5 linked regions of the Homo sapiens genome follow. The protein of the gene in region 1 purifies or fractionates together with the protein of each later gene. This does not show direct contact. Each region holds a gene or a part of one and is shown on either strand. Other genes may lie near its edges. The genes, in order: FARP1, NSRP1, HAVCR2, KDM4D and SDC3.

The links.
Region 2: the proteins of FARP1 (region 1) and NSRP1 purify together in Homo sapiens (affinity purification with mass spectrometry, with the first as the bait; one large-scale study listed by BioGRID). This does not show direct contact.
Region 3: the proteins of FARP1 (region 1) and HAVCR2 purify together in Homo sapiens (co-immunoprecipitation; one large-scale study listed by IntAct). This does not show direct contact.
Region 4: the proteins of FARP1 (region 1) and KDM4D purify together in Homo sapiens (affinity purification with mass spectrometry; one large-scale study listed by BioGRID and IntAct). This does not show direct contact.
Region 5: the proteins of FARP1 (region 1) and SDC3 purify together in Homo sapiens (affinity purification with mass spectrometry; one large-scale study listed by BioGRID and IntAct). This does not show direct contact.

Annotation. Positions count from the first base shown.
Region 1 is NC_000013.11:98,386,652-98,392,972, forward strand, and holds part of FARP1 (FERM, ARHGEF and pleckstrin domain-containing protein 1), read left to right. Parts: intron 1-1,731; coding exon 1,732-1,827; intron 1,828-3,305; coding exon 3,306-3,469; intron 3,470-4,160; coding exon 4,161-4,229; intron 4,230-6,321. UniProt on the Homo sapiens protein: Functions as a guanine nucleotide exchange factor for RAC1. May play a role in semaphorin signaling.
Region 2 is NC_000017.11:30,167,274-30,173,594, forward strand, and holds part of NSRP1 (nuclear speckle splicing regulatory protein 1), read left to right. Parts: intron 1-829; coding exon of another isoform or gene 830-941; intron 942-1,627; exon of another isoform or gene 1,628-1,652; intron 1,653-5,268; coding exon 5,269-5,325; intron 5,326-6,321. UniProt on the Homo sapiens protein: RNA-binding protein that mediates pre-mRNA alternative splicing regulation.
Region 3 is NC_000005.10:157,098,029-157,104,349, reverse strand, and holds part of HAVCR2 (hepatitis A virus cellular receptor 2 precursor), read left to right. Parts: intron 1-5,448; coding exon 5,449-5,492; intron 5,493-6,321. UniProt on the Homo sapiens protein: Cell surface receptor implicated in modulating innate and adaptive immune responses. Generally accepted to have an inhibiting function.
Region 4 is NC_000011.10:94,992,602-94,998,922, reverse strand, and holds part of KDM4D (lysine-specific demethylase 4D), read right to left. Parts: intron 1,900-6,321; 5' UTR 1,551-1,899; coding exon 1-1,550. UniProt on the Homo sapiens protein: Histone demethylase that specifically demethylates 'Lys-9' of histone H3, thereby playing a central role in histone code. Does not demethylate histone H3 'Lys-4', H3 'Lys-27', H3 'Lys-36' nor H4 'Lys-20'.
Region 5 is NC_000001.11:30,901,036-30,907,356, forward strand, and holds part of SDC3 (syndecan-3), read right to left. Parts: intron 1-6,321. UniProt on the Homo sapiens protein: Cell surface proteoglycan that may bear heparan sulfate. May have a role in the organization of cell shape by affecting the actin cytoskeleton, possibly by transferring signals from the cell surface in a sugar-dependent mechanism.

The sequences.
Region 1 (6,321 bases):
TGTGCTTTTAGTTTCAAAGGGATATAGAGAAAGCACCCGCCTTTCTCATGAAATAGGATCAGATTTCACCCAGTTAGGAAGTTGTAAATATGTTCAGGACCTAAAACCCTTTATTGAGCTCTTCCAGGTTTGCTTATATTTCCCCCTTATCTTTTATCAAAAGAGTTCCAGTGATTCTCTATTCATGCACCAGAAGTTTATGACAGCATAATTATTACAAATCACATCCCAAGAAGAGTTAAGTTGGCTTCCTGCCAGGTAGTAGGGAGTGACATTGTGAGAGCAGTGTGGTATTCAAGGCGGATTTTTTCTTGACAGTTTTTGACCTGCACGCATAGCCTCTGAGTATCGGATAAGAGAAACAATAGGCCGGGCGCGGTCGCTCACACCTGTAATCCCAACACTTTGGGAGGCTGAGACGGGTGGATCACCTGAGGTCAGGAGTTCGAGACTAGCCTGGTCAACATGGTGAAACCCCGTCTCTACTAAAAATACAAAAATTAGCTGGGCATGATGGCGTGTACCTGTAATCCCAGCTACTTGGAAGGCTGAGGCAGGAGAATCGCTTGAATTTGGGAAGCAGAGGTTGCAGTGAGCCAAGATCATACGACTGCCCTCCAGCCTGGGTGACAGAGCAAGACTGTCTCAAAAAGAAAAACAATAAAGCCAAGTGGAGTTTTGAGTACTATCATTAAATTTCAAATCACAATCCTGAACCATTTCTAAAAAGTATTAAGAAGGAAAAGAAGTGTCTCACAATTGAATTAATGTGCTTTGATTGTGTTTGACACAATCCCTAAGTATTGGGAATACCTGGGTAATGTAGTCACGTGCAAAGCCTGTGTCTCGGAACCCACCTTCTTGCCAGTGCCCTATTGCTTCATTCTTGCCACGTTAAATGAACAGGCCTGGTGTTCCAGTGGGCTCCAGAGGAATTCTAATTTCAGCTGAGACTGGGCAGATGGGAGTTGGTATCCGGCAGCTCCCCGTTGTTTCTCCACCTTGGATGGAGACAATGACTCCCTGGCTGCCAAAGACAATGAAGACATGTGAATCCGGCCCAGAGACTGTGCTGGCCTTGAAGACACACAGCAGGCCTGGCCTCCCATCCTCAGTTCTACCGGTGCTGTTGGAAGCTTGATGGGCCCAGGAGCCAGACCAGCGTGGATGAAGCAGGGAGTTGATTGCAAACCTGCTGAATGTTAACCATAGCTGCCAGGAAGGCGTGTGCTTGGAAGTCTCTTTCTGCCACATTAAACGTGTCATTTGCAGCAAATTAAAATAAATCCACGTTGCAGTTTCCATGTGTATAAAATGAAAATAGTAAGTCCATCTTGCTGGGTTTTATCATATCAGGGTTGTTAAGATACAGTATATAAAGCCCTCAGGATGGTACCTGGCGCTTCCTAAGTCCTGGCAGCTAATGATTGTGGTGGTTGTCATGGTTTTTATTTCTATTTATCTTTCTTTTCATCATTATCTTGGCTAGTTTCTTCTCTCCCTAGAGGCAGACTTAGTTTGTATGCCAAAATCCTATAATTAGTGAGAAATAATGATCCAGGAACAGGTATCATCCGATAGCCACAGATCCTGTGAGTTCTCTGCAAAAGTCATCTCTACTGAGCAGTCGCCTGCCAGCCCTCTTCCTTTAGCTCCCATAAGCAAAACAGACCAACTCCCAAGTTGCTTGTTATGCATTTCCTGGCTCACTGCTACTGTCTTTCTTTTTAGGGTTTCACTAAGATCAATGCCTTCAACTGGGCCAAGGTGCGGAAGCTGAGCTTCAAGAGGAAGCGCTTTCTCATCAAGCTCCGGCCAGATGCCAATGTAAGTGGTCCTGGCGGGAAAGGGGACCCGTTGAGCCATGGGATGGCGTGTGTCCTGCAAGGGGTGGAGGTCTGCTTGGCAGGGCTTCTGCTGAACCTCTGGCCAGTGCTACCCAGGTGCTTTTGTCCACATGAACGCCGAGCGTCTCTAGGACAGATGTATCCAAATGGTCGGTAACTCTACGGCTGTCATCGTTGGTAAACAGAGAGCGTAAAGGAGGTACATGAACATGTACCTGGGGAGAGGGTCATTTCCCTGCGCAGATTCAGGCAGCCCCTCCTGATAAACAACCTGAGCTGTGCTATTGCTGTGCATCCAGCCCCAGGCTACACCTGGAGACCCCATTCAGTATCCTGCCCTACCCCAGGCATAGACTGACTTCCCCAATCCCTGCTGGAGGCCCTGAGCCCCCAGTGGAACTCATTTTCATGGGCTAATTAGGTTCCCTTCCCCACTTACTTCCCACAACACGCCTAACACTGTGGCCCACGCCAGGACTGGGACGGGAAGGGAGGAGAAGCCTCTTCTTTGTCTGCCAGAAATGGCGACGGAGGAGGTGGGTGATGTGTCCTGGGCGTCTGTCCCCAACCAGCGTGTAGAGTTCTTTTTCCCATGGCAAAGAAGATGATAAATGGCAATTAGGCTTATAGTGTAGCTACAGTCTGGGTTCAGTAGGTTTTCATGGCCCGACCTGGGAAGCATATACCCATTTTAAATGGTTTTCCATGGAAAAATTCACTGGAGTTCCAAAAAGCTGCCTTATAGATAAAGAACTGCAGCACAGCTTGTTTGTAAGTTGGGTCCACCCAAAACTGTGAGATCCCCCAAAATAGTTAGAACTGCTGGGAATGCTAAGGACAGTAGTAACTTTTGTTTATATAATATGGCCACTTCAATTGGGAGCAGAAAATTTCTATATCCCCTTTCCAGAATCAAAGGGCATGATTTTTTTCAGCCAAGAGTGACACTTTGTGCTCCAGAAAAAAAAATTCATTTCCTGTGTAGTTCCTGGGGTGGCCTGGAGCCCGGAGCCGTGGGCGACTTCACAGAGAAACGACGTAAGAGCCAACATTGACACGAAGTATGAGGAAGAGGATGAACGTTGCGTTTCAGTGATTTTAAGGAGGCAGGAAGGGACTTTCAGTATCTGGGTTTTGTTTTTCAAGGAAATGTAAGCCAAATAAACATAATTTGTATATGAAATCTGTCAAAAAATGGTGTCACTTCCATTGAAGCCACGTGGCTGTTTCTGTTACCCGTCTAAGAGATTCTGTGGGGAAGAAAATGATGGACTAGGGACCACATCTTGTCCTTAAGAATAACTAGAGTTTAGTAAGTCTTTGCACTGATGGTCATGCTATAATAAAATACACAGCGAAAACTTTATCGGACAAAGCTATCTTCTGCCCCTTTTCTCCTATTTCAGTGGTGTATCTATGGGTAATGGAAAAAACCACCGTTGTATTTTCCCTTTTTAGAGTGCGTACCAGGATACCTTGGAATTCCTGATGGCCAGTCGGGATTTCTGCAAGTCCTTCTGGAAAATCTGTGTTGAACATCATGCCTTCTTTAGACTTTTTGAAGAGCCCAAACCAAAGCCCAAGCCCGTCCTCTTTAGCCGGGGGTCATCATTTCGGTTCAGGTGAGGTCGCCACTTTGTGCCTCTGTTTGCTGGGTGCACGTTTTTCCTCCCGCCTCTCACAGCCGCTGTGACACACAGCAGGTCAGGGAGGTGAACGCTCATTGGCCTCCAGGAGCTATGGCCAAGCGGGGGCGCTTGTATCTTAATCCCAGTGGGCTCTGTTTGAACAGCAGAGGCACCAGGCAAAGCCACCCAGTCATGGTAAACGCCTAGCGGGAGTCTCTAACTCAGAAAGGATTTCTCTCTCAGTAGAAGTACAGTGTCTTACTAACATTTGGTGTTGCTTCATAGAATATGTGGACTTGGATGTTATTGGTGAACTTTTCCATTCATTTTTAACAAATCATTGTCTGCCATGTGTCAAATACTGTTCCAGGCACTGAGCCCAGTGATCCCTGCCTTCACTAAAGGCACAGGCTCTTGGGATGGTTGCTTAGTAACCAAACACAGTTATCAAGTGGGCTTAGTTAATTGAACATTTTTTCTGTATATTCAAGGAAAATATCAAGAGACTGAGTGGACCCAAAAATACAGAGTCTGTCAGGATTGCTTTTAGTCCTGGCTAGCCAAGCAACCCTGCATCTCTCCCAGTTAGGGAAGGAGGGGAAGTGAAGCCCTGAAGCATCATTTGTGTGTTTAAATGAGAATGCCTTGGTATTTCTCCCCTTCCCTGTTGTGGTCTCTGTTTCAGTGGTCGGACTCAGAAGCAGGTTCTCGACTATGTTAAAGAAGGAGGACATAAGAAGGTGCAGTTTGAAAGGTAAGAGAAGCTTCAATGCTACTTCCAGTCTGAGAAGGCTCAGACTCGCCAGGTAACAGTTTGTTGCTGCTAAATATTTCTTTACCCAGACTTCAGACTTGATGTCCCTTGAGTTGTAAATGATAGTCTCAGTCATCCTCAGCAAGTCCAGTGTTAGAGAGGAAGGTTTTAGAGCCCAGGGGCACACCCTCGAGAGTGAGATGAGAACAGACAGAAAGGACTAGGGGAGGCGGGAGAGGACATACTGGGGAAGGAGAGAAGGGCTTAGGACATCACAGTGGGGGATGAAGCATGATAAAAACTAGCTCACTGGTGAGTCCTTCAATATTTTGGGATTTGTATTGAAAGCATGTCTATGAACATTTTAATTAAATCAAGTAAATCTGGATGAGCAGAAACAGGATTTTTTCTTTCTCAAAACAGGGTCTTGCTCTGTTGCCCAGGCTGGAGTGCAGTGGTGTGATCACAGCCCACTGCAGCCTCAGCCTCTGGGACTCGATCAATCCTCCCACCTCAGCCTCCTGAGTAGCTGGGACCACAGGTGCCCACCACCACTCCCAGCTAAATTTTTGTAGAGATGGGGTCTGCCTATGTTGCCAGGGCTGGTCTCAAACTCCTGGGCTCAAGCCATCTTCCCGCCTTGGCCTCCCAAAGTGCTGGGATTACAGGCAAGAGTCACCATGCCCAGCCAGAAACAGGATTTATTATTATTATTGTTGTTGGTGTTATCAAACACTTGTAGCCCTTAGTGTGTGCCAGGCTGTTCCGAGCACTGGGCCTGAGTGAACTCATTGAGTCTTCACCTCAGCTCTGTGAGGTCAGTGCTCTTTTATTCCCTTTATAAAGATGGAGATACTGAGTCCCCAGTAGGTTAAATAACTAGTCCAGGTCTCATAGCTGCTAAGCAGTTTCTGGCCAGCCAGCCAGCTCCCAAGCCCAATGCTCCAAGGAGGAGCAGCAGAACCCAAGGAGGGTAAAGGAGCGGAGGATAGGCCTCAAGAACTAGTTACTGCATGTAGCGTTTTTAAAAAACTTTTTTCATTTTCATACATTTAAAAATTACAATAAAGTACAGGGAAGTCAGCAAACACCCAGATTCCTACTACTTAGAATTAACGGCCATTAACAGTTGGACACATTTGTTTCTGGGGTTGTTTTTTCTTCTTTTATTTGCAGCTCTCGTTACAGACATGGTAAAACCCCCTTGAACCACCAGCTCTGGTAATTTCCCTTCTCCCCTCCCCAGAGGCAGCTGCCACATTTAGGCTCCTTTCTGTATGCATATTACTGCATCCCAAAAGAGTGTGTAGAATTGCTCTGGAGGCCGGGCACAATGGCACATGCCTGTAATCCCAGCACTTTGGGATGCCGAAGTGGGTGGATCACTTGAGCTCAGGAGTTTGAGACCAGCCTGGGTAACATGACGAAAGCTCATCTCTACCCAAAAAAAAAAAAAAAAAAAAAAAAAAATTAGCTGGATGTGGTGGTGCATGCCTGTGGTCCCAGCTACTTGGGAGGCTGAGGTAGGACGATTGCTTGAGCCTGGGAGGTCAAGGCTGCAGTGAGCCAAGATTGTGCCACTGCCCTCCATCTCTGGGCCACAGAGCGAGATCCTGTCCCAAAAAAAAAAAAGAGAAAAAAGAAAAACTGCTCTGAGTGTGTTCTTTTCATTCATATAAGTACTCCCATATATAATTCTGCATCTTGCTTTTTTAATACTACCTTTTTTTTGAGATCTGTTTTAAGGGCCATACAGTAGTATGAAGATACTACACTGTATTTCTCTGATTGCCTATTGAGAACCATCCAGATTATTTCAGTATTTTGTTTTGATTTTGCTGAAATAAACCTGCTTCTGTGGCCATCCCTGCATCTTCCTTCTACCACAAATCTGTGGTGCTTTCTCATGCCCTGTCTCTATAAATGTCATGTTCAGGAGGTTTTTTTCAGGAGGTTTTTTTTTTGGAGATGAATCCCATAATTTTCCTGGACAGTCAATGGTTAGTATTTGAAAACCATGTAAGAAATAGCCCAGTTCTCTCTCTGATTCAGAATGTGGATCTCTAGAGCTTTTCTGTGCTAACCTGGAGTA
Region 2 (6,321 bases), on another chromosome or scaffold:
TTTAAGGATACCACTAAAAACGTAAAAAGACTTGACCTTTAAAAACATAAGATCTGGCCGGGCACGGTGGCTCACATCTGTAATCCCAGCACTTTGGGAGGCCAAGGCAGGTGGATCATGAGGTCAGGAGTTCGAGACCAGCCTGACCAACATGATGAAACCTTGTCTCTACTAAAAATACAAAAATTAGCTGGGCATGGTGGTGTGCGCCTGTATTCCCAGCTACTCAGGAGGCTGAGGCAGGAGAATCTCTTGAACCCGGGAGGCGGAGGTTGCAGTGAGCCGAGATCGCACCACTGCACTCCAGTCTGGGCAACAGAGTGAGACTCTGTCTTAAAAAAAAAAATAAGATCTTACTGATCTGCTTTTAATTGTAGTAGTTTTTTTTCTCACACATAAATATATGTATTTAAGATATTTGTTAAAAAGAAAAATATTTTCCCATTCATGATATGACTACAATGTATCTGAAGGAATCTGTTTTTCATTGATACTATGGAGTAGATGTAGAAACAGTACTTAAAATATCAAATACTAAATAGACTCGTTTTTCCTTTAATGTTAATAACATTCTGTGTTTTCATTTTATGTGACTTTCCACTCTAATGGTCAACAGTACATGTACAGTTATAATAATACTTATGTTACTCTAGTAGATGGAATCATACCTCAGCTTTACGTTTTCAGAGGAATCATCTCAGTTGGTGAATTTCCAATAATAGCAACATAGGACACCGTTCAATATTATAAAGTTTAAATCAGATTTATGCTATAGGCTATTTGTACCTTTCCATGCCTTTTAATTCTGTGTTGTCTTGAGACATTTCAGTGTATATCCAGTACTGGTGTTTAAAGGAAAGTTATTAAAGTTTGGAATAAGAGTACCTGAATTGGAATCTTGCTTTGCCATTCACCAGCTGTTTGTCCTTAAATTCTCTCAGGTAATCTGTAGCCTTAACAATTAAAGGTGACTTCTATATGTCATTTAGCTTACTTATCCATTATTTCTGAAGTTGTTAGGATTATTGTAACTACTGTTGTTGTTACTATTTTTAGATTAATATATTTCCTTTCTGGATTTCCATTTAAAATATATTTAAAGAATCATAAAAATTAAACACAAGCAACATCCTTTTATATTCTGCACAGTTCTTAGCAGAATTATAGATTCAAAAAAGACACACAGAATAGGCCACAATACATGTGCCAATTTTTGTTCTCAATCTTAAAATTACATAGTATAATTATTATGGTTATCTGAAAACAATCACGTTGTGCACATGTACCCTAAAACTTAAAGTATAATAATAATAATAATAGTAATAATAATAATAATAAATAAAATAAAATAAGTATCTGCTCTTTTATGAGGAAATTGTTTTTAATTGTAGTAGTTATTTTTCAGTCTGATCTGAATCTAGATGAGTTTTTTATGTTATATAGAAGATCATTTTATATATTTTTATATAGGGTTACTATTACAGAAAAAAGTAAAAGTTTTACTGCTACTCTTTTAAGCTTTTTGTATTTGTTTAAACAGGTTTTTGGCATTTAATCGTCATCCTTAGTGGTAATTGTTAAAGTACCTTTATTTAGAAAATTGAGAATCAAATGACCTTCAAAAGATCATCAGTTTTTCCTGACTTTTTCAGGTTAGGTTCAGAGTTATCCACTGATGCTGTTGAATTCTAGGGATATAAGTTTGTGAATAGAATATGTAAAACTATTGCACTCCTTCCATTATGTTACCTTCCTGTGTAAGTAGTAACAGCTTGTTTTTTCAACGGTCATACTTCATTCTTCTAAACAGCTATGAACATAGAAACAAAATCTTTTGAGGTGTCTCAAAATAGATATAGTCTACATTGGAAAGGCCTTTCTCAGTCTGCTTATTCTATATTTTATAAAAGTCTGGAAAGGTATAGCCTTGTGTTTTTCTTTCCCAAGTTTTCTTTTTAAAAGTTATTTTATTTCTCTGAGAATCTTCCATAACAACCAAGTTACATAGTTTAGATTGAAGCATCCAGTTTGAAAGGCAGCAGGTAAACTCTGACAGATTAAAGGTGACAGACTGAAGGAGGAGATAGGAAAAAATAAAAGCAAGTAAAAGAGGAAAACATCCAGCATTTGGAGATGTAATCTTCTCAGTCAGTCCTGAAGACATCATTAACTCAGTGGTCAAGAAAAATATTTTTCATTCATACTAATCAGAAATACAGACATGAAAATACATTGGAAATATTAACTATTACTTTCAGTTTTGGTATTTAAAATTGATATTCTAGTGAATGAAAGTTTCATATTACATGTAACAGAAATTTGGATTAAATCAGTAATACATGTAATACACAACTAGTATACTTAGCATAGCACCTAGCTCAATAAATGTTAGCAGCTATTACTGTTTTTGTTATCAACATCTTTCCCCCAGTTAGTCAGTTTACCATCACCTAAAATGTCTTTAGTTCTTTGCATACTTATTTAATTTTTTAAATATGTATTATATGACCTTTGTGTATTAAATTGATTTGTCTGTGGTCATAGAGAACTATTTTGTTCTGGTTATTACCATGAAAAAAAAAAAGCACCAATTGCTGGTACAATACAACTGAAGATAGCAAGTGTTAATAGGCTGGACTACTATAATTCTAGAGCTGAGGATTTTGTGTACATATATATATTTAAAACTTACACATATGTTTTTATGTATATTTAAGACTTCGTTTTTTTTTAAACAGCAGTTTTAGACTGACAGCAAAATTGAGAGGGACAGAGATAACCCATGTAGCCCTTGCCCCCACAAATGAAAGAATTAAAAATGCATCAGTAGCTTTATTTTGGCTTTTTTAAAAAGATGTAATTCACATAGCATAAAATTCATGCTTTTATACAATTCAGTGTCAGTATATTTGCAAATCCTGATACTTGAAAAAAATTAATTGTGCATATTAAGGTATATAACAATTATGGGATATAGATGGTAAAAAGTTTACTACAGTAAAGCAAATTAACATGTCCATTATCTTACATACTTTTTTTGTTTCTGTGGCAAGAGCAGCTACAATTTACTCATTTAGCATGAATACCATATATAGTACAATTTTATTACCTATTGTCCTCATGTGGTACATTAGATCTCTAGACTTGTTCATCTTGTTACATACCTACCTCTTCCCATTTCCTCTCACCCCACCCCTAGTAACCATTGTTTTTAAGTTCTTTATCTCTGTGAGAGATTCCACTTACAAATGATGTCAGGTACTATTTTTCTTTTTGTGTCTGGCTTACCATGTAGCATAATGTCCTCCAGGCCCATTCATATTGTGGCAAATGGCAAGATCTCCTTTTTAAAGGCTGAATAATACTCCATCATACATATTTACCACAGTTTCTTTATCCATTCATTTGTCAATGAACAGGTAGATTGTTTCCATACCTGGCTATTGCAAATAATGCTGCAATGAACATGGGAGTGAAGCTACCTTTACCAGGTGGTGATTTCATTTCCTTTGGCTATATGCCAAGAGGGATTGCTAGGCTGTATGGTAGTTCTATTTTTAATTTGTTTATAAACCTCCATACTGTTTTCCATATTGACTGTACCAGCCTACATCTGCACCAGCAGTATATAAGAATTCCCTTTTCTGGCACCCATGCTAACCTTTATTATTTTTTGACTTTTTTAGAATAGCCATTCTAACAGGTGTGAGGTGTTATCTCTTAGTGGTTCTGATTTACATTTCCCTGATGATTAAAGCCTGTACTATTAAGGAAACATATTTTTCTTAAGTATTTTTTTTTCTTAGCTGTATGTAATCTTTAGTTTTGCCCATGTGATGACTACTTCCTATCTTCCTCTTGCATTCTTTTACATTTTTATTCTCTTTGATTCTGGTCTAATGTCATATCTCTTTTGGAAAGGGATTCTTGATTCCTCATATACATTTAGTTGCCTTCTCTGCCCTGGGCTCCCACAGTGCTTTGTTTATTCCTTTATTATATTGCTTATCACATTTATATTGTAATTGTCTTTTTTTTTTTTTTTTTTTTGAGACAGAGCCTGGTTCTGTTGCCCAGGCTGGAGTGCAGTGGCACAATTTTGGCTCACTGCAACATCTGCCTCCCAGGTGCAAGTGATTCTCATGTCTCAGCCTTTCAAGTAGCTGGGATTACAGCTGTGCTCCAACACTCCCGGCTCATCTTTGTATTTTCAGTAGAGACGGGGTTTCACCATGTTGGCCAGGCTGGTCTCAAAACTCCTGGCCTCAAGTGATCTGCCTGCCTCAGCCTCCCAAAGTGCTGGGATTACAGGCATGAGCCACCGCGCCTGGCCATATATTGTGATTATTTCTTTAATTGTCTTCCCTTTCAGACTGTTTATCTGAAAAACAAGATTTTGTTTCAGTCTCTGGCCTAAGACTGAGACTGTTCTTGCTTTTTCACTATCCTCAGGACCTAAACATGCTTTTTGGTACATAGTTTTTGATTATTGCCACGAATAGTTGCTGCTGTCCCTAAGCCTTAAACATAAACCGAGAGCTTGATACACTATATTGAGTGGTGAATATTAAAATAGTTTGCTTTTTGTAAGCTGGGAATCATACCATTTTAGTGTTGGAAGGTACCTGAAATATTATCTAGACCAGTCTTTCCCCATTTCTCACACACACACACACACACACACACACACACACACACACTCCCTCTCTCTCTCTCTCTCTCTCTCTCTCTCTCTCTCTCTCACATGTTCACATGAAGCAAATTGAAATCTGTAAAGGTTGAATGACAGTAGTGAATTTAGGACTAAAAATTCATGTTTACTCATCTTTTCCTGTACCATTCTATTTTCTCTGATACCTTATAATCTATTCTGAGGATTTACAATGCAAATTCATTTATTTCCTGAAGTTTAGGGAAAAAACCCTGAAAATGTTAGTTTAATTTGTATTATTATCTTTTTACTTTTAACTATAAGTAAGGCACCATTGCCAACCAGAAAACAGGTTGAGCATCCCAAATCTGAAAATCAAAAATCCTAAATGTTCTAAAATCTAAAACTTTTTTGAGCACTAATGTGAAGCTCAAATGAAATGCTCATTGGAGCATCAGATATCAGATCTTCAGATTTGGGGTGCTGAACCAGTAAGTATTTTAAAAATCTGAAATACAAAACACTTCTGGTCCCATGTATTTTAGATAGGGGACGCTCGTACTGGAAAAGAAATTTTAAATTTGTTTAAAAAGTGACAATATATTTCTGTTTTACAGACCTCTGTGAGTGAAAGCCTTCAGAGGGAAGCTGCTAAGAAGCAGGCCATGAAACAGGTAAGGTAGAAGACTGGGATAAGTGCATTCAGTGAAGCATTCCGGCTCATTTTTAAGCATCAGTTTTGGTATCTAGGTGCTGAGACTAAAACAGAATAGATTTAAGGAAAAACACAATGAAGAATTAGCTCCTTATTGCTGTGCTATAGATTAAACCAGTTCTGCTTGTAGATGACTCATTAGTCTAATAATGGATTGTTTGGCCTGTTGTTATTATTAAATTCTTGCTAGTGAGCTTACTTGCAGGGAAAAAAAAAACCTTTTCACAACCAAAATGGTTTCACAAACTTATAATTATTTGAAACTCATCTGCCCAGAAAGAAGAATATCAGAGATAGATACAAATATATAGATATATAGATATATAGATTTTTTTTTTTTTTGAGATTGAGTCTTGCTCTGTTGCCCAGGCTGGAGTGCCGTGGTGCACTCTCGGCTCACTGCAGTCTCCATCTCCTGGGTTCAGGCAATTCTCCTGCTTCAGCCTCCCGAGTAGCTGGGACTAAAGGCGCATGCCACCATGCCCAGCTAATTTTTATATTTTTAGTAGAGACGGGGTTTCACCGTGTTGGTCAGGCTGGTCTGGAACCCGTGACCTCAGGTGATCCGCCAACCTCAGCCTCCTGAAGTGCTGGGATTACAGGCGTGAGCCACCGTGCGCGGCCTGATAATTTTTAAAAGACGTGCTTGTTTCCAAGTGCTTTTTACATACATTTATCTTTTACAGTTCTCACAAACTTGCCCATAGTACTGATTAAGAAATCTGAAACTCAAAAAGGATAAAGTGCTCCTTAAGATCATACTATTAATTATCGAACTAGGCCTGAAGGTTTACTAATTTTTCTGCTATTGTAGACTAGTATATCTTAGATTTTCTGCTATAGAATGTAATGAAATTAAACAATAGCGAGGTGCCTTTGTTTTTCATTTTGAATTATTTATCCTCTCCATTAGCTTTATAATTTTTGGTCCTATTTCCTCTTTGTCTAACTGGAA
Region 3 (6,321 bases), on another chromosome or scaffold:
GGACTGGTGATGTTTGGTCATGAACTGGTGTCAGTCTGTGTTTGGGAACTGACACATTGGATTAGGTGATTTCTAGGATGCCTTCTAGCTAGAATAAAGCCCATCACCTTCCCTGGATTCCAGCCACAGAAAGAATAGTTAAATTCTTCATGTAATTCAGCAAGGACGTACTCAGGGTGCTCCAGAAGAGAACACTGGGCATAAAGCAGAAGTCAAGTCACATTGATCATGAAGGTTAATTTTAAGGTATTTCTTGTCAGTGTCCTGGTCTCTTCTAAACTCTCTGGAGCTCCATTTTTTTTTTCTTCTGTAAAATGAGGTTAATAGGTGAGTCCCACCTCATAATGTCATAAATCTCATAAATCACACCTTATGGGCTTTAAATAAGAAAATGTCTAAAACGTTTATCCCAATGTCTGACCACAATTTGTACATGTTAGCTGTTGTCGTTAATATTATAAGATCAGGAGGCACAGTGAGATTGTGGTTAAAGTACTTCAGTGACAGGTGGAATGGGTTCTAATTTCAGCTGTTCTTGATAGCTCTGTGACCTCAGTCAAGTTGCTCAAATTCTCTGAAGCTCAGTTTGCTCATCTCTACAATGAGGATAATTCCAGTGCCCATGTCATGAGGTGGTTGTAATGTATAAACATGATAATGTATGTAAAATGCTCAGCATAGTACCTGGCCCATAAAAAGCACTCAACTGTTTATTATTACTATAGTTACTGGTTTTAGCTCTCCAAAGTTTCAGTCTTTGGTTAGTCTTTAGTGATTGGTAGCCAACATCTTTTATGCAATTAGAGAGGAAACTAAATATGGTGGGGACAGAAAATAATAAAGTTATACCAGATACTTATTGTATGCCATTGTTATATTTTAAAGAATCTTACAACCATAGTGCTAGAAGGGACTTCAAGGGTCATTTAGTCTCACTTTCCCATCCTGTGCTTCAGTACTTTTTTTTTTTTTTTTAATTGAGACGGAGTCTTGCTCTGTCACCCAGACTAGAGTGCAGTGGCGCAATCTCGGCTCACTGCAAGTTCCGCCTCCTGGGTTCACGCCATTCTCCTGCCTCAGCCTCCCAAGTAGCTGGGACTACAGGCGCCCACCATCAAGCCCAGCTAATTTTTTTCTTTTTTGTATTTTTAGTAGAGACAGAGTTTCACCGTGTTAGCCAGGATGGTCTCCATCTCCTGACCTTGTGATCCTCCCGCCTCGGCCTCCCAAAGTGCTGGGATTACACGCGTGAGCCACCGCGCCCGGCCAGTACTTTTTACTACATCACCACTGAATGGGCATTTGCTGTAGACGGAGTTCACTCCCTGTCGAGGTGGTGCATTTCCTTATACTTGTCTCTACCACAGACAGAAGTCTTCTTTCCTTTAGTTTTTCTTTCCTTTTTTTTTTTTTTTGAGACGGAGTCTCACTCTCTCACCCAGGCTGGAGTGCAATGACACGATCTTGGCTCACTGCAAACTCTGCCTCCCAGGTTCATGCCATTCTCCTGCCTCAGCCTCCCAAGTAGCTGGGATTACAGACGCGCGCCACCACGCCCCGCTAATTTTTGTATTTTTATTAGAGACGGGGTTTCACCATGGTGGCCATGCTGGTCTCGAACTCCTAACCTCAGGTGATCCCTCTGCCTCGGCCTCCCAAAGCGCTGGGATTACAGGTGTAAGCCACCACGCCCAGCCTTCCCTTTAGTTTTTGTTTGTTAGTTCCTTCCCTCTAGGGCAACAAAAATGGGAATATAGGAATAATACCTCGAACCTCTGAGCTTCTCAAGGGCCTGACTGAGAAAAAATATTGAAACAACCAAAAATAGGTCAGTAGCTCCTAAATAGGAAAATAAAATAAAAAATTGAAATGAATGAATATTTAATGGTTTGTCTATAATATGTAACATTATGTAAATTGGCTGCTGGCAAACCAACTCTAAATGTGGGATGTGGGAGCATTTAATATAAAAATGGGGCTGGGCACAGTGGCTCACATGTGTAATCCCAGCACTATGGGAGGCCAAGGCAGGCAGATCACTGGAGCTCAGGAGTTCAAGACCAGCCTGGGCAACATGGCAAAACCCCATCTCTACTAAGAATACAAAAAATTAGGCTGAGTGCAGTGGCTCACACCTGTAATCCCAGCACTTTGGGAGGCCAAGGCAGATGGATCACCTGAGGTCAGGAGTTTAAGCCAGCCTGGCCAAGATGGTGAAACCCCTGTCTCTACTAAAAATACAAAAATTAGCTGGTCATGGTGGTGCATGCCTATAATTCCAGCTACTCAGGAGGCTGAGGCAGGAGAATTGTCTGAGCCTGGGAGGAGTGAACCGAGATCTCACCACTGTCCTGAAGCCTGGAAAACAGAGCGAGATTCCATCCCAAAAAAAAAAAAAAAAAAAAAAATAGCCGGGCATGGTGGCATGTGCCTGTAGTCCCAGCTACTTGGCAGGGCTGAGGCAGGAAGATTGCTTGAACTCAGGAGGTTGAGGATTCACTGAGCCGAGTTGGTGCCACTGTACTCCAAACCTGGGCAACAGAGCGAGACCCTTTCTCAGAAAAAAAAAAAAAAAAAATGGAGTAGAGCCTTTAAAAGTAAGAGATCCAAGGGCCTGGAATTTGAACACAGAACAAATGCAACTTGTCTTCTACCTGAAGGAGTAAGGACTGGGTCACAGGTGAGTCCTCAGCTCTAGAGTAGATCTGCTTTAAATCCTAGCTTTCCCAATTAATAGCTGTGTGATCTTGGGCAAAGTGGCTCTCTCAGACTCAGTATCTTCATCTGAAAAATGGGGAAAATAGTAGTACCTACTTATTGTGGTTGAGGATTAAATGAGATTGTATGTATATGGTGCTAAGCACCATGTCTGGCACCTAATAAGTACCAAATAGATGGTAACTACTAAATTTATACACTGTTAAGGCCATCACATCTCACCTCCGCTGCTACCTGCCCCACCAGGCAAATCTTGGTTTCTCCAGAAAGAACATTGCCACTCCCTTCAACTGTCCCATCCATCTTGGTTGGTGGCCAAATCTGTGTGAAAAAAAGCTGTAATGACACAACAGTGCTTGATTTTACTGATCATTTTCATAGCAAAATGAAGTTTTTAAAAAGTTAGTTTTACCATTTTTATCAAGAAAAATAATTATAAGGAGTCTGAAACTGGATTTACATTTAAAATCTTATGTGCACTTAAGATTCATGTTTACTTAGCAGTTGTACTGATGAGGGTCTTTTTTTTATTTTTTTGATATGGAGTCTTGCTCTGTCACCAGGCTGGAGTGCAATGGTGTGATCTCGGCTCACTGCAACCTCCACCTCCTGGGTTCAAGCGATTCCACTGCCTCAGCCTCCTGAGTAGCTGGGACTACAGGCGTACACCACCACGCCCGGCTAATTTTTTGTATTTTAGTAGAGATGGGGTTTCACCATATTGGCCAGGATGGTCTCGATCTCCTGACCTCGTGATCTGCCTGCCCTCGGCCTCCCAAAGTGCTGGGATTACAGGTGTGAGCCACTGCACCAGGCCTGTGGTTTTTATATTTTAAATTTTTTTCTGGTAATTAGGGCAAAAGTAATTGGAACATAATCTTTTTTTCTTCAATAATTTTAGGCTGAGGCTATGCCTTTATAATATTTAAACTATAGTTTGCTAAACCAGCATTTAGTCAAACCCTTTATACACATTAAGGCTTCCAGAAGGTGACAGTGACATTTAAGAAGTTTCAACATCTCTGACTCAGCCATAAAAATGAGTAAGCATGCTTAGTTTTCCAAAAGCTGGCAATGTACTTATTTTTAGAATTCAGTGTTCATGAGGTCAGGGCCTGTGCCCCTCTTGTTTCCTGCTCTGTCCCCTGTGCCTAGAGTAAGGGCATAGTGCATATTCATGGAATGGATCAGCAGATGAAGAAATAAACAAATGAACAGGAAGGAAAGATGGTGAGTGGGTGGCTGGGCAACGTGACCCTCTTCATAATGACAGCACTGAGGTAAGGGCTGGTGAAGGCAGTATAATTAAGAATGTGCATTTAAGGCTATGCAGACCTAAATTGGAAGGCCATTTTGTCATTTGCTAAGTCATGTGACCTTGGGTTAGTCACTTCACTTCCCTAATTTTCAGTTTCTTCATCTGTGCAATGGGACTAACAGTCTCTACTTTAGAAGCGTAGTTCTAAAGTAAGTGCTTCTAAGTATCTCTAAAATGAGCTTCTTCACTGAAAGAGTTTATTTAGCACAAGGCCTGGCTCCTATTACATTGTGACCACAGTGATTATTTTCATTTGTTGGCAACCCTGTCTCCCTTCTCATGAGTAAATGCAAAACTTATTTAAGAAAATGGAGGCTGGGCACGGCACGGTGGCTCACGCCTGTAATCCCAGCACTTTGGGAGGCCGAGGCGGGTGGATCACTTGAGGTCAGGAGTTCGAGACTAGCCTGGCCAACATGGCGAAACCCCGTCTCTACTAAAAATACAAAAATTAGCTGTGTGTGGTGGTGTGCCCCTGTAGTCCCAGCTACCAGGGAGGCTGAGGCAGGAGAATCGCTTGAACTCAGGAGATGGAGGTTGCAGTGAGCAGAGATCATGCTACTGCACTCCAGCCTGGGTGATAGAGTGAGATTCTGTCTCGCAAAAAGAAAAAAAAGAAAAAGAACATGGAGGTTGCAGTGAGTTGAGATTGTGCCACTGCACTCCAGCCTGGGCAACAGAGTGAGACTGTCTCAAAAAAACAAAAAAGAAGGAAATGAATTTTTGTTGTCTTTTAAAATCTAATTAGAATATAATGCCTGAGGCCAAGCCTGGTCGTTCACACCTGTAATCCCAGCATTTTGGGAGGCTGAGGTGGGCAGATCACCTGAGGTCAGGAGTTCACAACCAGCCTGGTCAACATGGCCTCGTCTCTACTAAAAATACAAAAATTAGCTGGGCGTGGTGGTGCATGCATGTAGTCCCAGCTACTTGGGAGGATGAGGGATGAGAATTGCTTGAACCAGGGAGGCCGAGGTTGCGGTGAGCTGAGATTATGCCACTGCACTCCAGCCTGGGTGACAGAGTGAAATTCTGTGTCTAAATAAATAAATAAATAAATAATGCCTGAGTCTTATCAATATTGCTAGATGTTTGTAGAACTCATTAGGGTCCTGTGAAAAAAACAAAGCACATATTTAATGTAGGACTTCCTGGCAGAAGTCTCTATTTCATAAAACAGTACGGTTCATTATCTAGATGAAAAAATGTGGCCATCCTAAAGTTGATTCCTGGGTGTTCAGTAAATTTTGTCTGTCTCTCCATTAATTATTGTGACAAGTACGGAGTAGAATTCATTTCAAATAGGATTATAGGCATCATTAAGATTTTTTAAAAACTTAGATAAAAGAAAACGTTCTTAACTATACTATTGGCTATTTTTCCTCTCTCTCTCTCTCTCTCTCTTTTTATAGCAGAGACACAGACACTGGGGAGCCTCCCTGATATAAATCTAACAGTAAGTAACTTTTTTTGTGAGCTATGTTGTACTCAACTTGGAGGGGAAATCATGGCTTTAGACTTCCTTCATGCCCACCTTGTCCTTGGGGTAAAAAGCCTTAAGTTCCCTTAGCTTCAGATTCCTGGGCTGTAACATGTTGATGATGACAGTTCTAACCTCATAGGCCTGCTGTAATGAAGGACTGACATGATGTGTGTAAAGTGCCTGGCATATAGTAAGAGCTTGAAAACCACAAAGAAGAAACATTAGCATTTTGTCCCTCTTATTCTTCAATTTCACAACTGTCTACCCTGTGGAAGGTTCAAAGATTCTTCATCTCCCTAGAATACCATTCTTCTTGCTTCCATTGCAATCCTAATGGGAAAGAGTATTTAAATTTATCTCTTTAAATATGGCAAGACACCAGTCAGGAATATTCAAAGTGAAGAGGTTTTTTTTTTTTTTTTTTAGACAGAATTTCGCTCTTGTTGCCCAGGCTGGAGTGCAAGGGTGTGATCCTGGCTCACCTCAACCTCCGCCTCCCGGGTTCAAGCGATTCTCCTGCCTCAGCCTTCCGAGTAGCTGGGATTACAGGCATGAGCCACCACACCCGGCTAATTTTTTTATTTTTAGTAGAGACGGAGTTTCACCACATTGGCCAGGCTGATCTTGAACTCCTGACCTCAGGTGATCCACCTGCCTCGGCCTCCCAAAGTGCTGAGATTGCAGGCGTGAGCCATGGCACCTGGCCTAATTTTGTATTTTTAGTAGAGACAGGGTTTCTCCATGTTGGTCAGGCTGGTCTTGAACTCCTGACCTCAGGTGATCCGCCCAACTTGGCCTCCCA
Region 4 (6,321 bases), on another chromosome or scaffold:
CACCCAGAAGCCTTGACAGGATGCTGGAGCCCTGGGCTCAGTGGTACAGGCTTGTCCATCAAAGCCCCATCCTCAGGTAGGGGCTCAGGTTCTGGGCCCGAAGCTGTGCATGTTGTGCCCGCCAAGAGGGGCCTCTTGGCTGGAGTCTGGAGGGTCAGCTCCTGAGCTCTCAGTTTCTGAGGAGGGCGACCACGACCACGTCTGCCATTTGACGGGTGGATAATCTGTGCAGATGGACCAGGGGTGGATGATGGAGTTGAGCTGGGCTTCTTAGAGCTGTGGACAGCAGCAGCCCGGGGCTGCGTAGCAGTGCCACTAACTGCAGATCGGCGTGGGAGTGAAGAGCACACAAGGGTGTGGCACCGTGTCCCACTGCGGGCAGCCATAGGCCAAGGGGAATGCCGGGCCCAGTGGGAAGGGAGTTGTCTCAGGCCCAGCGCTGCTCTCCTGGGTAACTGGACTTCCTTCTGGGTGCTCAGCTCTTGGCTGGCTGGTACCCTGGGCTCCATGTGGTCCACAACTGCCCGGTCTTGCCCACGTTTCCACAGGTCATAGCGTTCAGGTTGCAGGATGCGCACGAAGGCATCCATGGAAAAGGTCACCCTTGCCTCCCCACAGCTACACTGGGAGGCCATTTTGCCATAATCAATCCATCGCGGAGTGGCAAAATTGATGGCCTCTGCGCAGTTGAAACCATGGTTGAAGCCAGCATGGTAGCCATAGGGAAAGGTCACCATGAACTCTCCAGCCTCCTGAGTTATGCGATTGAAGGGAATCCCATTTTCCTTGAGAACTGTAGGCGAGATGAGGGCCACCTTGTGCCGCAGGAAGGCCCCACAACCCCGGGAACTGCCTGGGAAGAGCTCCCTGGCCAGGCGTTCCAGGCGCTGGCCATGTTCTGGGGGCACCACATACCAAGTTTTGGGCTCCCCAAGGTGCAGGTAGTTGATGCTGTAAAGGTCCATGTCCTCTGTATGCCAAGCAAACGTGGTTTTCCACATGCCAAAGTACAAGTAGGGTGTATTGACGCCTTCTATGACAACCCCACATTCCTTTTCCAGCAGGTCCTGAATTGTTCCCAGGTGCCCAAGATTCCATTGTTTAGTGTTTTCATCAAACAAGGAGCCACTGATGTCAGCACCATAAATCGGTGAATTATAGATGCGGTTCTTCCAGTATTTTCGCTCCAAATCTTCGAAATTCTGGTGTGGTGGAGTCTGATATTTTTTACTGTTTGCCAAATGGCGATACTCCCCCACAGTCATGGCTTTCTTTTTTTTATGGTATTGAGTAAACACCCCTGCCCGCCCAGAGGCCACCTGCTGGAGGGGAGTGGCTATTAAGATTTCACTGATATTATCATAGGTCTCTCTGGCTTTCCATTCTTTGGGTGGAATTATCTTAGCCAAGCCAGCTCTGTGTGCACCTTGGGATTCCATGTAAGCAATATATTTATCAAAATCATTAAACTCTTCTTTGGTTGGATGAAATATCATTATGTTACAATTTGGATTCTGGGCACAGTTGGCCTTAGACTTCATAGTTTCCATTTAATAAGCAGTAAACTCTTAGTTTTTAGGTATGTTCTAGATAGTTGACAATGTAGGAAAATGCTACTTTAAAAAAAAATTTGACTGGTGTTATCTATGAGGTAGCAGGATCTACCAGCGTACTTTTTTTTTTGCAAATGAGATGATAATCTTTCTTGGGCTTGTTTATTCACTAGTGAGATTCCACTCTGGGCAGCAGCTTTGCCCAGGCATTGACGTTAGCTGATCCTGCAACTCTGTTATGTTTCGGTTGCTGCTGGGCTCTGTCTTCTTAAGTCTATTGAATTACTCAGACCTGGGGGTACGACCCAAATGTAGCAGAGAATGTCCTCAGTGTTTAGAACAAAATCTAAAAGAAAGAATACACAGAGATTAAAAATTGATATTTGGAAAAAATATTAGGCATCCAGAAATTAAATACCAGAATAGAATAATAATATTACAAAGAGAGGCTAAAATTTTATAAGATTGATAATTCAAGTGGAGGTGTGGATGTGGAACAGTGGGAATTTTCATACCCTACTACAGAGAATATGAAGCACTATAATCACTTTGGAAAACTATTTGGACAGTTTCTTCTAAAACTGAACATACATATGTTCTGTGATCCAACTGTTCCACATGCCTAGGAAATGTGTATGGTTGTGAGCTGAAAGTCACATCCAGTAATGTTCATAACAACATTGTTTCTGGTAGCCAAACACTTAAACAACCCAAATGTCCATCAGCAATAGAATGAATAAGTACACTGCAGTATATTCACACAACAGAATACCATATAGCAATGAAGATAAACCAAAGCCACATGAAAATGCAGTTTTATAAAGATCAATATTGAGTAACATTATCAAGACTCAGAAGAATACCTATTACACAATTGCATTTATATAAAGATGAAAAGGAGGCAAAGTAATCTATGTTTGAATTGCTTCTTGGCCTTTTGGCTAAGATCAAGTGTAGTAATCTATGTTTGAAGTCAGAGTAGTGGCTACCTTGGGAAAAGAGGGGTTGTTGTGTAGGGGGGCTTGAGGGGATCTCTTGAGTAAAGTTAATCTGTTCAGAACCTGGGTGCTGGTTTCATACCCATCAGAATAACTCATTGTGTTAACTCATCAAGGTATGATGATTTTCACAAATTTCTGTATGTTCATTTAAAAATAGGGTTTAGGAGGAAAAGCGTTAAAGACAACTAAGAGGCATATTTCATTGTATTAAAAGGAAAAGAAAGAACGACTGAAAATAAACTATACATTCAAGTGATAAAGGCAAATTAGAGTTAAGGGAAAGAAAGAGGAAAGGTACGGAACTAACAAAGAATAAAGATGATGTGTTTCCTTAACTCATACCGTGTGACTTTGCAGTATGTGTCCCCTATCCCTCGCACAACTGGTATCAGCCCTACATGGACCAATCTAGCATGACAGGAATTTTCCCCATAGAGAAGGGCCATTCAAAAGAGATGAAGAAAGCAGATAGTAAGGTTCCATCAGGGTTAGGATTTTTCCAGGCAAGTATACCTCAGTGAGAAAGGGATAAGGTTGTTGATGGGTTGAATGGAGAATGAACCATTATATCTATCCTGGATAAAAAAGGAAATAAGAACTTGAGGGAGGTTCGTGGGCTAGATTTCTCTATTTAGTCAAATAGTCCTGTTAGGACACTAGGAAAGGGAAGCTCAAAAAAGATTGGGATGCTCGAAACAGATTTTTTAAACTAGGGGCAGTTTTTAACTGAGTGCCTATTTTACTGATGTCTTGACATCTTCCTGAGTTTTGACTTTATGCTATTATTCAACTTCAAACTGTTTCTCCCCTCCCACATTCTCTCTCCCAAACTTTCCCTTCTTCGTCAGTTCTTAAGTTCCACTCCTTCCCAAGTAGATGAACTTGACTGTTCATCTTCCTTTACTGTCCCAACAAAACAGCACATCTTCTTTCATATCCTGTAGTTCTCTTGCCACTTATCACTTCTACCTTATATAATGTGAACAGTGTCACTTTTATTTAGCACTTCATTTAGACAGACCCCTTATTAAGCACTTTATAGTATCCTATTCAAAACTCACAACTAATCTATGAAGTTGGTACTATCATTATCCCAATTTTATGAAGGAAGAAACCAAGGTATAGAGAAATTTATAACTAACTCAATAGCTTGTGTTTTCAGTCTCTACAATTATGTCTATCCTTGACTTATCTTCCATATAAAAGTATTGAGAACATAATCTGTGTCTTGTTCACTATTGTGTTTTCCAAGAATATTGGTTTTCTTATATATTGTAGGCACCCAAAACATTTTTATTAATTAAATGAGTTGGCACACACTTCCCTCTGTCACCTATTGATTACACCCCATGTTTCTCACTGTTCTCCGTCCTCTCAGGAGAAAACACTGCTTTCTAGGGCTAATTTCTCCATTTGAACTCCTTAAATCAACATTTCCCACTTGGTCCAGGACTATGTTGAATTAAATAATCAGTTATTTTTCTCTTTATTAAATCATCAGTCATCAATCTCTTTCCTAATTTAAGCTACTGTCCTTACTCCCTCTCTCCCTCCTCTCAGGCTCCTCTCTCTCTCTCTCCCACCCAACCCCAGGTCCTGCCCCCACCTTTCTACTGACATTGTTCTCCATAAATCATCAAACTGCCTCCCAAATTCTGCTCCAGGGGTTACACTTCACTGATTCACAGAACCAGTGGTTCTGTGAACATCTGGTTCACAGAACATCACTGGTTCACAGAACACCTCCCCCTTCCTCCTAAAACTCCTACAACCTCCAGGGCACTGATACTTCTTTTAACACTGGTTCTTTTCTTTCTTCTGGGTTCTACCTCCTCTTCTACCACACACATGCAGACATCTCAAAGTTCAATTTTTATCCCTCTTAACTTTCTTTCTCTCTTAAAATTTCCTATTTATATTCAGGGTTTCTGTTAGTACCATGCTGTTTCCCTTTAAACATGTTATTTATTGTCATAACTTTCTCCAATAACTGACTCTCTCCTAAGCTTCTGCTCTCCTTCTCCAACTTAGATGGCCCAGTGAGCCCCTGAAAGTCAACTGGTTTAATACAAATTGATGATCTTTCTCCTGAAACTAAGTTACTCCTTTATATGTCTTTTATTTCTATCAAGGGCAATAATGTGTTATCGTAGTCACCACTGACTATTACATCTCCCTTTTCCCAGACATATGGTCAGTGCCTGTCAGAGGATCCAATGATAGTCTTCCATGAGGCCCCAAGGACATCTAGACACCCCAGGGTGTGTTCTCTTTATCTTCCTTATAGAAGAACCCAAGAATCCAGCTTGTCTTCCTCTCCTACTTAAAGCTGTCACTACTCAAGCGAGACACTGAGGATGTACAAGTGACAAGATTACCTGTATCATATGATAGTCTCCCAATCTCATCCCAATTTTTTAATCTTAAAAATTATTCTACAATGATTTTATTATAAATTCTTTATATTTTTGGAATATAAAATAAAATATTTCATTCTTTCTATTAGAAAACTTGCTCTAAAGAAAAGAAAAGAGAAAAGTGAGACAATTTAGAAGGATAATTAAATATCAGAAACTTAAATATCATGCTGAGGGTCTTTCCCTCAAGAAGTAACAAAATGCTGACTATGAAAATCACACAAACCTATATATTTTTTTGAATATACAAGTAAAATAAGCTTTGGGTTGAGCACTTTGTATCTGTTTTATAAACTGCGTTACTTCTTTTCTACATTTCTAAGGATTCTAGGAAGAATGATGCAATGTCTCCTTATACATATAGTCTTCAGATGTTGCATATCAAAAGAAAATACTACAATTTGTAAGTGTGACTGCGCTCCAAAAAAAAAAAAAAAACTGCTTAGAATTTGCCAGGTACAATGATGGAGAGATCCTTCAGTGTTCTAGCCAAATGTGTCACTTCTCTATGAGTCTTCAATGGTTGCTTTTGTTGTGAGACTACTTGCTTCTTTCAACTGGAACCATAGCTACCAGTAGAGAATAATTACACTGTCACTTGATACTCTTCCATTTTACCCTTACCCACAGTAATCACAATAAGGCAGAATTCGTCATCTAAGAAAACTTGACAGTTCTGACAACCAAAGAAAAGTATTTTCTTATCAGAATAATTAAAAAATAATACTTGATCCCTTAAAATTAATGGATTTCTGGAAATTAGAAAGTCTTTCTTCGGGTCTTTTAGAAATAATGCCTCCTAAGCTTCTTGCTGTGTGTGTGTGTTGGGGGGTGTTAAACTGGGCAAGTTAAGAAGTGAAGCTGAGTAAGTTTAACAGTCCCTTTCACTGCAGCCCTTGCCCAAACTGTTTGTCTTTCTTGCTGCATATGTATTTCAAATCTATTACTTCAAGTGGGGGATTGTTAACAAAATGCCTCAGACATCAGCCCTTGTTTCTTCTGACAGTCAATATCTAAATGCTATGTTTAATCAAATTTTTTTCTCAGTTAGAAAATCTACTACTTATTTAAAATAATTTATAAGCATAATATATTTGATAACTGAAAAAATTCTACTCTGTGTAGACAAGTGATTAAACTTATCCTGTATTATTGGACAGCTATTTTGTTTTTACTTTTGCACGATTATTACTAATCACTTTTACTTAAATATGTAGTCCGTATTTCAGTATCTAAAACAGTACATCCCGTAAAATATTGGTTGAATGAATGAAATTTCTTAGATTAGATACTTATAAATGAAATTACATTATAGAATTTAAATATTTTAAGATCTTTAATACACGTTGC
Region 5 (6,321 bases), on another chromosome or scaffold:
TCAGATGGGGCTCCAGGGTAGGAGAAGGGGCAAATGAACACCAGGCTCCACCAGCTCCTGGCTGTGTGTGCTTTGGCAGGTGGCCTAACATCTCTGAGCCTTCCTCTAAATAAGGGGAATCCCACCAGCCCCTCAAGAGTGGTGGGAGGCTCAGTGGGACCATCTAAGGCTGGAGAGCCAGCCCCAATCCATTGGCAAGGCCCCAGGCTGTGGCTGGGCCATCAGCTGTGGGATGTCAGGCTGTAGGGCTGGCCATCTCTCTAGGACTCTCCACCCCTGAGATCCTGCGTAAACATCAATAGTCACCTACTCTGGGCCAGGGCCCATGTGACAGACAGAACACAGCCGAGATGCTCCCTGGCTGGGAGGAAAATGGAAAGCACCCAGTCTCACCAAGTCCTGGGCTCAAGCTGCAAATAACAAGGCCTCTCTGGAGTTCCAGGAGTGGAAGGGCCTGAAGAGTCATCATGCAGGATGGACTGCAGGCTGCTCAACAGCTCTGGAGAACCAGCCCCCAGAAACTCAGCACCACGGACCCTAGAATGTGCTTCCTCTCATCTGGCTTAAGTCCTGCTGGCTCCAACTGGGAGTCCGGCCCTTGGTCTCCTTCTAAGGGTACCCCCACCCCCAGAGTTCTCCTTCAGGCCATCCATGATTATTCAAACTTAGTTCCCCCTCTCTCCAAAAGAAAACCCTGCTCCTCACCCCCAAGCAGTAGTTCTTCAGTAAGACCCAGAGAGGGACAGAAAAAGAACAAAAACCAAGGCAGGTGAATGGAAAAAAAACAAGATTTGCAGGAGCAGCCCGCTCCTTATTTACTTTAGTACTTTATTTACTTTATTACTTTATATTACTAATTCTCAAGCAACCCTGAGGTCCCATTTTAAAGAAGAGGAGACTGCGGGTTCAGAGAGGTTAGGTGAACTCACCAAGGTCACACAGCAGGAATGTGACAAAGCCAGGATTTCAACCCTGAATCAGCTGGCTCCAGGATCCCTACTCCTTCGATGACTTCAAGCTGCCCCCTCAGGCTTGGGACACCCCAAAACAGACATAGCACCAAGGCCAGGGGTGGGGAGAAGGCAGGCCTCAGCCAGCTGGGGCAACAGGGGTTGTAGAACCCTCTCCACCTGGTATAAAAGGCCAGCATAGGCGTTTCCTGCCCTCCACCCACAGCAGCCAGGTAAAAAAAGGGCCAGATCATTTGTTGGGGCCACCGCCACCCCCACTGCTGGGCCCTCAGCCATGGCCGCTCAGGCTCCCCCTGTAATCACGGCTTCCTGTTTGGCGCTGAGACTGGGCTTGGCCAGTGGGGGAGGGGAGTGGCTGCCCCTCTGGCCATGGCGGGAGGGGGGCCGGAAGTGAAGGCCACCAGGCCTCCTGGAATCTGGGGAGGCTGGGAGCCAAGGGGAGTGAGGGTGTGGGGGGTGCCATCAACAAATATTTACCAAGAGCCAGCCCGATGTTCCCAGGATGTGATGTTATGGAGGACAGAGGCCTGGAGGGGCCAGTGAGACAGGTCAGGAAGTCCAGGACCCTGCTCCCTGCTGGGACAGGGGTTTGGGGGGATGATGGGAGCAAGGGCCTGGGGCCTGGGCAGCTCCTGGCTCTGGCCACCCTGTCCCTTGAGACACAAAATCAAAGGGCTCCAAGCAGCTGGGCTGTAGTCCAGAGCCACAGTCCCTCGGTCCTGCCCAGATGTGGTGGTGGCAGTGCCTTGGCACTCAGACTGAAGGCCCGCCCGATGCAGCCCCCTGGCGCCTCCCAGCCCACGGGCACATGCCTTGCATGCAGCAGGACTCTGCCAGCCTCACTGTCCCCAACCCACCTACACAGGAAAGGACACAAGCCCCTGCCTGGGCTCCATAGCTCACAGTCCCGGCTTCCTTCATTCCTTTATTCCCTCATTCATTCATTCATTCCTTTGAATCATTCACTCGAGCCTGCACCAAGCACAGAGTGGTCCCTGGGGGTTCAGTGAGAAAACATGGCAGCCACGAGCCTGCCCAGGAAGCTCAAAGTCTATCAAGAAAGCACTGACATCACTCCTGACAGCTGGGGGACCCCCACCAAGTCACACCCCATCTCTAAGCCTCAATCACTATGAGGCCAGAGAGAATCTTGGCTGCAATGGGGCCAGTGCTCAGAGATGGAGCAGGAGGAACACGGATTTGGCCTCCACACACTTTCTAAGGGCCAGAGGGGGTTAAAGGCAGGCCTGGTCACCTCTGCAGACTCAGTCCCCAACACTGGGGGCATCTGGCACATATCAGGGCTTATGGTGGCTTTTTAGACCCCTCTCATCCTGAGATTCCAAACATTTCCCCTCTCCTGTGCCCTGACCACATGACCCAGACATAAACTCCCTTCCGCATACACATGTGTGGGCACACACACAAATGTACACATGCACGCACACACAATCTTGCTGACAGCCCTTCGCAGTTTATAAAGCTCTCTCTCCCCACCCCATACACCCCCAGTGGCCCTCAGAGTAGCTGCTTTTATGGGCTACAGAGCCTTGGGAGGCGGTAGATGAGGAAGAGCCCTGGCCAATCCCTCCCACAGGGTGAGACAGCATCACTGACCTCCAGGGCTGTGGGAGAATTAAGTGAGAAAAGATATGGGACCAACCCCCTTCCCAGCCCCACCCCGCCAGAAGAGCAGGCATTTACTAAACAGTAGCTAATGCAGACATAATCCAGGGGGTAGGGAGGCCCCAGAGAGGTAAAGCAGCTTGCCTAAGATCACACAGCAAGAGGGGGTAAATTTAGGACTGCAGCCCAGTCCCATTAGCCTGTCAGGCCCTGGCTCATACTAGCTCTGCCACTTCTGGCTGTGTGACTTTGAGTAAGTCACTGAGCCTCTCTGTGCCTCAGTTTTCTCCTCTGTAAAATGGGGGTTCTGGCTGGGGGTTGTGGCTCACAACTGTAATCCCAGCACTTTGCGGGGGCCGAGGTGGGAAGATCACTTGAGGTCAGGTGTTCGAGAACAGCCTGGGCAACATGGTGAAACCCCATCTCTACTAAAAATACAAAAATTAGGCAGGTGTGGTGTCAGGTGCCTGTAATCCCAGCTACTTGGGAGGCTGAGGTGGGAGAATCGCTTGTACTCAGGAGGCAGAGGTTGCAGTGAGCCAGGATCATACCACCACACTCCAGCCTTGGCGATAGAGACTCTGTCTCTAAATAAAATAAAATACTAAAATGAGGATTCTAATAATTCCTACATCAAAAAATTATTGTAAGGATGAAATAAGCCGATACATGTAAAGTGCTTGGTGGGCGGGGCTCTCGGTAAACATGACCTCTCTCTCCCACTTGGGATGAGCCCCCCCTCGCTCTCCCCACCACTGCCACCACTCCTGCTGCCCCGGACCCCCCAGGGACCCTATGCCCGCTTGTATGAGGTGGGAGGAGCCACTGGGTTTCAAAAGGCCATTTTTTTTGTTTTTTGTTTGTTGTTTTCTTTCACTTTTTTTTCCAGCACAGCTCACCTCGCACCAACCCCCAACACACTGAACTCACAGCTGGAGGCATTGTGCTCACTCCTCCCCAGAGAGCAGGAGGCTTCAGGTTCAAATCCCAGCCCTGCCTTGAGGATAGAGTCACAGCCCCCAGTAGTGATTCTAAAAGCCAAGTATTTGTTGCCCCCAGTTGACAGGTAAGAAAGCTGAGGGTCAGGGCAGGTTACAGCCTGCTACTGTCATGTGATGACCACTTTCATTGCTTAGCTCAAAACCCTCCTCCTCCAGGAAGCCTTCCCTGACCCCATCCATGCTCCCTCCCAGAAAGGTCCCATCTCCTGAGAGCTCACTACGTGGCAGGTGTGCTCGGTCTACTCAAGCAGCTCATTTCCAAGTCACAACATCCCTGTGAGGCTGACACCATTACTGTCCGCATTTTATAGACAAGGACTTTGAGACAGAAAGAAATCCCTCACTGGAAATCACACAGCAGGTGTCTGTCCCCAGAGCCCCTGGTACCTTGGGAGCTAACAGGCAGCATACAGCTGTGGTGTCCCTGTGCCTGTCCCCCAAATGCTGGAAGGGGAGATGGTTCACCCAAGAGCCTGGCCCAGAACAGCCCAGGGGCCCCCAACTTTCCATTTTTTTGGTGAGGACTATCTCATCCTGGAAACCCAAGGCTCACAGTCACCCAGGGGAGCCTGGAGGGGAGAAGAGCAGGGATGCTTGAAACAGGGTGAGGAAGGAACGGAAACCACCAGGCCTGGGGCTGAGCTTCAAAAGAATTCCCTACTAATTCCCCCACCCCACCCCACCCCCACCCCCACCCCCATCCGTACTCTCTCTCTCTCACAAACACACACACACACACACACACACACACACACGTCTCCCACCCTTCCACTCCCCACCCCTCCTGCCTTCCCAACCACAGTACAGCAACTTTGTAAAAGAACAAGAAATCCATATTTGTTGAGCCCTTAGTAGGTGCCAGCCACTGGGCTAAAAGCTTTCCAAATTAAGCCCTTCCATTCTCGCATTGTCTCCATTTTAAAGAGGTGGAAACTAAGGCACAGAGAGGTTAGGTAACTTTCACAAGGTCACACAGCCACAAGGTAGTGGTCTCCCATCACTGGGAGTATTCAAACAAGACTAACACCTAAGATCCCTTCCAGCCCTGGACTTTTGAAAGAACATGTTTCAAAAGCTAAAATGTTCAGGATCCTCACACTCCAAAACTTTGAGTGGTGACTTAAGTACAGTAGCTGAGGTGGCCTTAAAGGCAGATGTCCCTCAGAGTCCTGGTAACTTGGTCTGTCAGAAGAGGGACTCCTCAAAGGAGATGCCAGGAGACAGACACAGACACACAAACACACACACACACACACACTGCAATTCACCATCTGCAGTGTGAATGAGGCCTGCTCTCCCTGCTATCCCCATGCTGAAAGACACGAAGACACACACACACACACACACACACACACAAAGGCTGGCAGGTGACCCAAGGGTCATCATGTCCCTGCCCTTCCCTGCCCTGTGCCAGCCACCGCTCATCTACCAAGGCCACCCCTGGAGCTTCCCTGGCTGGGGCTCTTCTGATCTAACCTCAGTCCCTCCTGCTGCAGGCACTGCCCTCTCCCTCTGGTGCGGAACCCCGGCAACCAGGTACCACCCATTAACCCTTTTCCTCCCAAGTCAGATGAGGACAAGAGGGATGATGCCCCTCCTTGACAGCTTGACCCATGGGAAGATGTGAGGCCTGGAGGACACTCCACTTCCCACCACCTCACCAGGCGCCCCAGTACCTGCCCTCCCCCAGGCCCCACCCACCATTTCAGCCTCTGGGCTCAGACTCCCAGGGTCTGCTTGATCTGCCACCCAACACTGGGTCTGAGCCACACCTCTCAGATTCAGGTCACCCGTGTTGCGAGGCCCTACTGTGCATGAGGCTATTAAATGCTCTCACTAAGTCCTTCCACCACCTCGTGGAGTATGAATTATTAGCCTTATTCAGCAAGGAAAGTGGCCTGCCCAGCGCTCCACCTGGCCTCCAAGTCTAAAGCTTTCTGTCCTGAGCCCCTTTCATTCATGTGCACACCACATGACTCCTGAGCTCCTTCTCAGGACACTCGTCAGTCATCCCATTGAATTTTTGCCCTCTGAGGAAGGGGTCATTAGCCCCATTTCACAGAGGGACAACCAAGGGTCAGAGAAGTAAGAGGACCTGCCCAAACCATGCCACGAATCGGCGGGGGTAGCAGGATTGGAACCCAGGGTTGTGTGATTCCCAAGCCTTTGATTTTAAGGATGGTCTTTCAGAAATTTGGCTGAGAAGGCGACCCCAGCTGCTAGGGTGTGCTGGGTCTCTATCCCTCCCAGGGACCTCTTCCTCTCACCCCACTTAGGGGAGAGCTGGGAATGAGACATCCTGGCCAGCAGGCACTTCACACAGGTCAGCCCTCAACACTTCCCCTCCCTCCAGCTGACAGCCCCCTAGATGGGGAAGGCTGAGGAGGGGCCTGTCCATCCAAGAAGCAAGCTTGGAGCCCCTGCCTGTCCTCCTCCTGTCTTACTGACTGGCCCACTGAGGCTGGGAAAGGGAAGGAACTTGCAGAGGGCGGCTGGGCACCCAGTGTTGCTTGAGAGGCCTGGGTCCTTTTCAGCCTGGGGGATGCAGGACAGCATAGCTCCTGGAACCAACCTGGGAGGCTGGACCTAGAAATCCCCAGCCCGCCTGAGCCAGAACCTGGACACTTGTCCAACAAGAACTCATCTGGGGCCTGGATCCCTCAAAGGGGGATGAGGTCCTTCCTTTCTCTGCCATCCCTGACGGAGCTGGGACCAAGCATGGC